Linked DNA regions of Homo sapiens: all the other regions are linked to region 3. Evidence: fine-mapped expression QTL. A gene starts in region 3. Each other region holds a variant in brackets. All regions are shown on one strand. Distances are from middle to middle.

Region 1 (2,767 bases), 79 kb before region 3:
CAGGCATGCGTCACCACGCCTGGCTAATTTTTGTATTTTTAGTAGATACTGGCCAGTAGATATTGGCCAGGCTGGTCTCAAACTCCTGACCTCAGGTGATCTGCCTGCCTCAGCCTCCCAAAACCCTGAGATTACAGGCATGAGCCATCACGCCCAGCTGCGTTAATCTCTTTCTGCCTACAGTCCAACATCAGAGGCTGTCTCTAGAGCCACGTCAACACTGTTGCTTAAAAGAATAATTGATATTCATAATGATACTCTGTCATAGTGCCTATAAATTTATATGACTGATATCTAAATAAATTCCATTTGTGTAGTTGTTAACCAAGCACATTTATAACATTAGTTCATTTGAGTCCAGGGTAGTAAAATAGATAATATAAATCCTACTTTTTAAAAATGTAGAATGCTAATCAACAAAGAAGTTAGATGTCTTTCTAGAAGTTGAAAGTCCAGGATTCAACTTCAGAAGTGTTCACTTTTAGGCGACCAAACTTCCCATTGCTCCATATAGACCGTGTAACAAACAAGAGGACTAAGGGCAGTCACTTTGAGAGTGTGTTAATGCAGTTAAGTAGTGCCCAAAGCTCTGCTTTCAAATCATCATTTAAAATAGTTTTATTTTGAATATGTGCAAATCTAAATTACCTAAGGAGGTTTTGAAAAGTAGCTGAAGTCATTCTTAGTACAAAGAGATGGGATCAAGTGGGAGTTTTTTTTTTTAATTAAAAACAGTTTACTATAAAATACGTTATATTTTAAATAGAACATGTTACCACTATTTGATGTATGAGTATAAAATGAGTTGCAATGATGGAGTCACAAAAACAGTTTCAGAAGTGGAATAAATATGTGGCTACTTAAAGTAATTGCTTTGATAGATGATACTCATTTCCATCTATAAATTTTGGTGTGTTAGTAAAAATAGTTCTATTATTTGGTATCACACTGCATTTTCCCTTTGAAAGATAAATAAGTATATATTAATTATAAATGCTTTCTGAAATGAAAGTTTAAAATTTAAAGTGTCCATGTGTATAACCATCAGATGTCCTAGATGAGGGTCGTACTGTATGAGTTTTTGCAGCAACTACTGCTCTGGCTCTACCAATCCAGGTTTACTACCCACATCTAAAAACCATTGTATTTGCCATTAGTCTACAGCCTGACTCCTATCTATTTTGATGTTAACAAAACAAAATCTATTTTAATACTGAATAACTGAACTTTCAGTCTTATTATTTATTTACTTTTGATCTTTATTATGAATATTAATAATGTAAAGGACCTTCATTTTCAGCTCATAATCGATAGGTATCAGCTATTAATTCAACATTGATTTATTGATTGTATTAAGCAGATATGTTCCAGTCTCTCTACTAGGCAGAGGGATATGAAGCCATTTCTATTGTGACCACATTGGTAAGAATTAACTTCCCCTTCTCTTCTTCCTACTGATGTCATAAACC[G/A]CCATTTGACATTTTAAAACCATATATCTCATTGAAAAGGGAACTGACTTTTTAGGCCTTGCATGTAAACCCCCAACACAGACGGCCGTGTTCCCTCTTTGTAGGGAAGAGTACAAGCAGACCACAAGAACTTCAAAATCACATTGTACACAAGAACTTCAAAATCACATTATTTTCCCACTAGGGCAAATTCAGTGCTGGGGATTTTGTGTACTTGGAGTGTATTTGTGCCCCCTTTGAAATCTAAGAATACTTTGTGTACAATAGTAGTTGGAAAAGCAACTAAATGAGAAATGGGTGGTCTGAGGGCAGCCCTTCTCTGAAATTTGCTTACTTATTTTCTGGGGTTCCATTAAATGCTGTGTTCCCTGTGAAGCCTGGCCTCATTTTCTATCCTGGAATTAAGCGCTGCCTCCACTGCTCACGTGGTAAAGGTGCTAGCACGCAGCCTTCACAGACTGCCAGTTAAGGCATGGGAAGACCTTACTTACTGTGCCAAATTCCACAGTATCTAGCGTGGGGCTTTGCAGAGTTGGTGTTACATAAATGCTTTTTGAATTGAACCCTAACTTCTTTAAGCAGGCTCCAGTACCTCAATAAAATAAGAACCAACAATATTTGAGTCACTGGTTAGAAAGAATAATGTGAAACAAATGAAAGTGAAGGAGTATAAATAGGGTTTGAGGTAAGGTGGGAAAAAAAGAATGAGAAGGGTTTCTTCAAATCCGTGCTAAATCCTCTCAATTCTGAATACTCTGAAGCTAGAAATAAAAGCTAAACTATATAAAATGTAGACAGTAGGGATGCTTTGCTATGGTTATAACCACTTATATTCATCTAAAGGAGAAGTGAAAATATCACTGTATTCTGGATAACACCCAATATACATAGCACACACACACAAACACACACACCACACAGGGACACACACACCCCACTCAAGCTAATGTATTAAAAAGGAAACCTGTTTAATTTTTAGAAAGACTTTTTCATATACAGTGAATTTTCTTTTTTATTTTTATCCCTGTAGATAGCTGGGTTTGTTTTTGTTTTTTGTTACGGAAAGCAGCAGGAGGAATCATGGTAATGGAAGAAAGAGTACCGCCTAAACTTAGGAAAGACTTTGACACAAATTAAGCTATGTTATATTGATGCATCACTTAAGTGTCTGGATCTGGAAGTCTGGACTATATCATCTTTTCAAATGTAATATCCTGCAATCATGTGAGAAATTTATTAGTCCTTTTGGGAATCTGCAAGTGGTTGGGAGAAGCCCAACTAACTCCCTGCAAACCTTT
Region 2 (2,767 bases), 20 kb after region 3:
GTATGCACATTCCAAATATTTATCTTTGTTTTGATCTAAAGCCTAGATCACCACGCATACAATGGAGTACTGACAAATGTTTAACAACTATTCACTGAGGGGAAATGTGCCTTAATTGGTAGTGTTTGCCAATTTCCATGACAGAAATACTCACATCATGGACAATTTCAAGCTACCAAAGTGCCACAGATTGACTAGCAACATTCTTAAAAATTTGACAGTCGGCTTTTGTGAGCTGGTACGAGCTGCCTTCAGCACACCACTGATACACACAACCATTAGTGATGGTTACCTCTGAGGATGTGTGAATTGAAGGTTTTTTATTTTGTTCACCTCTCTTTATAGTTTGGATTACATGCTATTATGTTCTTTCATCATTTTTAAAATTGAAAAAGTGATACAGGTTTTTTATTGAGCCTCCCTTCCTCCCTCCCTCCCTCCCTTCCTTCCTTCCTTCCTTCCTTCCTTCCTTCCCCCCCTCCTCCCCCCTCCCTCCCTCTCCTTCTTTCTTATTTATTTATTGAGACAAAGTCTTGCTCTGTCACCCAGGCTGGAGTGCAGTGGCGCAATCTCGCAATCCCGGCTCACCGCAACCTCCGCCTCCCGGGTTCAAGCGATTCTTCTGCCCCAGCCTCCTGAGTAGCTGGGATTACAGGCACCCACCACTATGCCCAGCTAATTTTTTTTTTCTTTTTTGTATTTTTGGTAGAGATGGGGTTTCACCATGTTGGTCAGGCTGGTCTCAAACTCCTGACCTCAGGTAACCCACCTGCCTCAGCCTCTCAAAGTGCTAGGATTACAGGCGTGAGCCACAGCGCCAAGCCTAAAATGTCACAGAAATTTAAACATGAACGCTTCTTGTTGTACAATGCCTTATGTGCCAAAAAGTGAACCAGGTTTTGTTACTGTTCTTAACTGCAGGATATGTTGCAGTATTACTTGAATCTGACAGAGGCGAATCTAAAGGGAGAGTCCATCTGGAAGCTGGAGTATATCCTGACCCAGACCTACGACATTGAAGATTTGCAGCCGGAAAGTTTATATGGATTAGCTAAACAATTTACAATCCTAGACAGTAAGCAGTTTATAAAATACTACAATTACTTCTTTGTGAGTTATGA[C/T]AGCAGTGTAACATGTGATAAGACATGTAAGGCCTTTCAGATTTGTGCAATTATGAATCTTGATAATATTTCCTATGCAGATTGCCTCAAACAGCTTTATATAAAGCACAATTACTAGTATTTCACAGTTTTTGCTAATAGAAAATGCTGATTCTGATTCTGAGATCAATTTGTGGGAATTTTACATAAATCTTTGTTAATTACTGAGTGGGCAAGTAGACTTCCTGTCTTTGCTTTCTTTTTTTTTTTCTTTTTGATGCCTTAATGTAGATATCTTTATCATTCTGAATTGTATTATATATTTAAAGTGCTCATTAATAGAATGATGGATGTAAATTGGATGTAAATATTCAGTTTATATAATTATATCTAATTTGTACCCTTGTTGAAATTGTCATTTATACAATAAAGCGAATTCTTTATCTCTAAATATGATGAAGTTTTCTTAACATGATAATTTTTAGTTAAAATCTGTGTATTAACTGAGGTCCAAATTGTTTACCTCTCATATGTAAACAGATGTTACCACTGTTTACATGCACTATCTACTCTTGGGAAAATACCATGGTCATTAGGAGCATGCTGAAACATCACAGGGCATGTATTGCCTAGCTTTCTTCATTCTGAGTCTTTGGCATTGCTAACTTTTAAGGATGAGAATGTCACACATACTTATTGTATCTGCAGTACTAGCACAAGGCCTGGGTCCTAGTCCAGTGCCTGGCACCTAGTAAATAATTGTTGAAATGAATTGAAAGCTGTGAATATTTTTCAAAGAAACGTCCTAGATTACAGTGGTGGCATTTTCTTTGTCACAGTATTCCAGGATAGGATAAAAATGAGCCTTTTATTTAATGGGATTGTTTTTAGGACTCCAATGGCTCAAGCTGTTTTCTGCTTTCAGGTTAAGTAGGAGAATTAAAGTAGAAATGGAAGGGAGAGTGGGAGGGACTGGGGGATTTAAAGGAAGAGAAGATTGTATATCCCAACACTGGCATAGTGGAGAAGACTGTTAAAGAAAAAAAGCTCATCATGACACTTGTTAAAGATGTTAAGGCAGATGTTATCCAAGGTAGGCCATAGTGGTAGGTATAGGGACCACTGCAATGGAATCCTGCAGTGAGGGAGAGAGAGTGGACTCAGTTCTGACTTCAACAAGGCTGAGTGGGGATTTATAACCAAGGAGCAGAGTGGGGATCAGTGAATGGAAAATTACCAGGAGGAAAAACATCAAAGGTAAGAGGTTTCTGGCTATTACCAGGAGGAAAAACATCAAAGGTAAGACGTTTCTGGCTATACCAACTTGATAGGATTATTGCCGAAGGCAGGCCAGTGTGATAGGATATCAAGGGCGGTCAGATACCAAGGGTGGGGCATTCTCCCTAAGCCAACTTAACAGGATTCTTGCTCAAACTGGATCCTGCAAGAACAAAGGAAGCCCAATGTTGGCCTAGTCAAGCAGAGGAATTGGAGGAGCCTGACTAAAGTTTTGGTCAAAAGAGAGAGTCTTTGTCAAGACATAAAATGAGCAACCTTAGATTGAGGAGAATGGAACTCATCATCCTTGTGACTGGCTTGACTTCATGTATTAAAATGACTTTTTGATGTAACATTGCATAATAATGAAACCAAATTATCCTGATTTC
Region 3 (2,767 bases):
CTGCAAAGGAATTCCACGCCCTATAAATTTAAATTATTAGCTTGTCATCTCCAAGAGATCAGCATCCTCATAAACGGTGAGAGAAGGAACACAGAATACAGGATCCAGCACAGTTTCGGGATTCTGGCTTCTTTGCCAGACTTATCTTTGCTTACTTCTTTGTATAGACTTACTTCTTTGCCAGACTTATCTTTGCTTACTTCTTTGTATAGACTTACTTCTTTGCCAGAAGTATATTCAAAAAAGTTCCGTGGAAGCATCAAATCAACCACCTCTACTTATGATTTCCATGCATCTCTGGAATGCATAAAGCATGATTTCAGAACATGTTCTAATTCTAAGACCCTTCTCTTCCCGGCAGTTTAAAAAAAACAAAAAACAAAACGTCGTATCTTTGAGCATTGGTTTTCAAACATCACAATCACTTTAACATGACCTGAAATGCTTGTGAAAACACAAACTGCTGGGCTCCAGCAGGTTTCTGACTCAACAGGTCTAGGGTGGTGCCTGGGAATTTGCATTTCTAACTAGAGTTCCCAGGTGGTGCTAATGTTCCCAGTTCAGAGACTTCAATTCGAGATCCACTGCAGTATCCATAACTTTTGCTGATTTCCTTCAAATCATGATACTTCAGGGCTCTCTGCATCACCTCTACTGAGGAGCCCTACCCATTAAAGCTGGGGTAGGTTGGCCCAAGAATGGAACCGGGATCGTTGAGATTTCAGCACCCCAGCATTTTTTAGTGACTGAAATAATGAAAATTCTGATCAGGCTCCTGCTTGCTTGCACATTTTAACCACTCGCTTTTTGCCCAATATTCTCCTTGTTTCCACAATATAATTATAAACTGCTGAGGTACTGCTTCCTCGTCAAGAACAAAGAGGTTAACTTCAGGGTCACAAAAATGTTTGCAGAAGGGATGAATACCTCCAAGGGCTTTGCAACCAGCTGCGGATGCCTGGACGTCTAATTGCTCAAAGGTGTTATCTGAGACTGAAGAAACAGACTTTTCCCCTGGATTCTTTGAAAATCCCCCTCTCTTATTCTCTAGCAGAATAAAAACTCCCTGCTTTTTCCTTTTTACACACGGATTTGAGAGATCTTGTTCTCCCTCCTTCTGGCTTTTACTAAATTGAATGTCTTTCTCTATCCCCAAGCACCAGTATGTCAGTGTTTGACATCAACTGCACCACTGATACACGAGTCGGAATTTGAGCTTCTACAAGTACATTCCTTCCTAGGCCAAACACTGACGCTAAGAAATACGAGAACAGATCATCGCTAAACAGCAGCTGAAGGTCAGGCGAACTGACTCGCTGCGGAATCTGCCTTTGCACGTGATCAGTCGGACGTCTACACCCGCAGCCGTCTTCTGTCTCCGCCTCACCCTCAGGCCTGACGGTCCGAGTGGAGCTGCGGGACAGCCCGAACCTCCAGGTCAGCCCCGCGGCCCTCCATGGCGCTGGTGCGCGCACTCGTCTGCTGCCTGCTGACTGCCTGGCACTGCCGCTCCGGCCTCGGGCTGCCCGTGGCGCCCGCAGGCGGCAGGAATCCTCCTCCGGCGATAGGTGAGTTGTCCGCGACCCTTCTCTTCCCAGCCGGCAAAGAGCGCGGAGCGGCGGCGCCTGCGCACAGCAGGAGAAAGTGCGTGGGGGCAGCTGCCCCCGGCAGAGGCTCGGGCTAGCGGGGCCCCTGACGCGTCCGGCGTTGACCACGGCTGGTGGGCGCGGGGAGGGCGACCAAGGGACTACAGCGTTAGGGCGTCCAGCCGGGAGGCCGGGGCTGGGCGGGGGAAATGCCCTCGCCGGTGGGGGCGCTCCAAGGGCGCGTCGGCCGGATTTCGCCAGCCTGGCTTTTGTTTACATCCTGCATCTCAGTTGTTTTGTTCCTTGGGGAAGGAAGGAAAAGCTGCGGGACTCAAGGGAAGAGGAAGCTGGGAGTCCGATGTCCAGCACAGCAAGAGGCCCCTAATCGGTCCTGAATGGAGGGGGACTGCAGTTTCCCCACCAGCTCAGGGAAGTAAATTTCAGCGTGACTCACACTATCTTCTGTCTTGCTCGACCGAGATCAGTGGCTTTTTCTGCCACTCACCCAGCCAGAGCGCGAAAGCACCCTCGGGTAGACTCACCCCTTAGTCTACCGTGGAACTCACGGGGACTTCATTTCACCTGGATGTCCACTAGGTTTCCTGCGGGCGGGACCCATTTTATTCACTCCCAGCACTTAACACAGTGCCCGTTACAGTAGTGATTCTCTTAAGTGTGCCCTGGACCGGTGGCAGCAGCCGCCGCACTTAAAATTGTTAGCATTGCAAATTTCCAGCCCATCCCAGACCTACTGAATCTGAAACGCCGGCGTTGGGCTTCCACAGTATGCTGTTTAACCCACCCTCCGCATGATTCCTTTCGGCTAAGTTTGAGACTCACTGGTCCAGAATAGATACATTTTGGTGGGAGATTGTACAATGCCATCCGAGCCTCCAGTTCCAAAAATCAAGGTGCCCTCACCTCCTCAACTCCCTTTAAAAATAATTGCACTGTTAAGAGGAAAAACAAAATTAGAGAAGTGGGGTTCTGTTTTCTTTTAGGGGAGAGTTGTCCCTGAGACTCGGTAGCAGCACCTAGTGCTGAAACCTCTTTCGCTCCCTCTGTGCTTTCTCAGGACTTGGGAGCGCTCTAGGGCAAATATCTTCTCTTTGAAGGCCAAGTCCTCACGACTCAGCTGTCAGGTCTGAAGCAAAAACTGTAAATCTGGTTTCCGAACTGTG

What was found. PIP is the estimated chance that this variant, and not a neighbour inherited with it, causes the effect.
Region 1: its variant is fine-mapped to the expression of SMPDL3A in whole blood (INTERVAL, PIP above 0.99). The same link has a PIP of 0.9 or more in blood mononuclear cells.
Region 2: its variant is fine-mapped to the expression of SMPDL3A in monocytes after LPS (Fairfax 2014, PIP 0.95). The same link has a PIP of 0.9 or more in transverse colon.

The regions. Positions count from the first base shown.
Region 1 is chr6:122,708,774-122,711,540 of GRCh38, forward strand. The region is part of intron 3 of PKIB (cAMP-dependent protein kinase inhibitor beta); the gene reads left to right. Among named protein-coding and RNA genes, the nearest start is that of FABP7, 70 kb to the right of the region's middle. The variant G/A (reference allele first, on the strand shown) is at 1,470.
Region 2 is chr6:122,808,170-122,810,936 of GRCh38, forward strand. It overlaps SMPDL3A (sphingomyelin phosphodiesterase acid like 3A), which reads left to right. Exons shown (of 8, transcript NM_006714.5): 8 at 922-1,551. The coding sequence ends at 1,239. Among named protein-coding and RNA genes, the nearest start is that of SMPDL3A, 20 kb to the left of the region's middle. The variant C/T (reference allele first, on the strand shown) is at 1,122.
Region 3 is chr6:122,787,891-122,790,657 of GRCh38, forward strand. It overlaps SMPDL3A (sphingomyelin phosphodiesterase acid like 3A), which reads left to right and starts at 1,368. Exons shown (of 8, transcript NM_006714.5): 1 at 1,368-1,568. The coding sequence starts at 1,457. RefSeq lists enhancers at 1,178-1,679, 1,680-2,179 and a silencer at 1,394-1,688.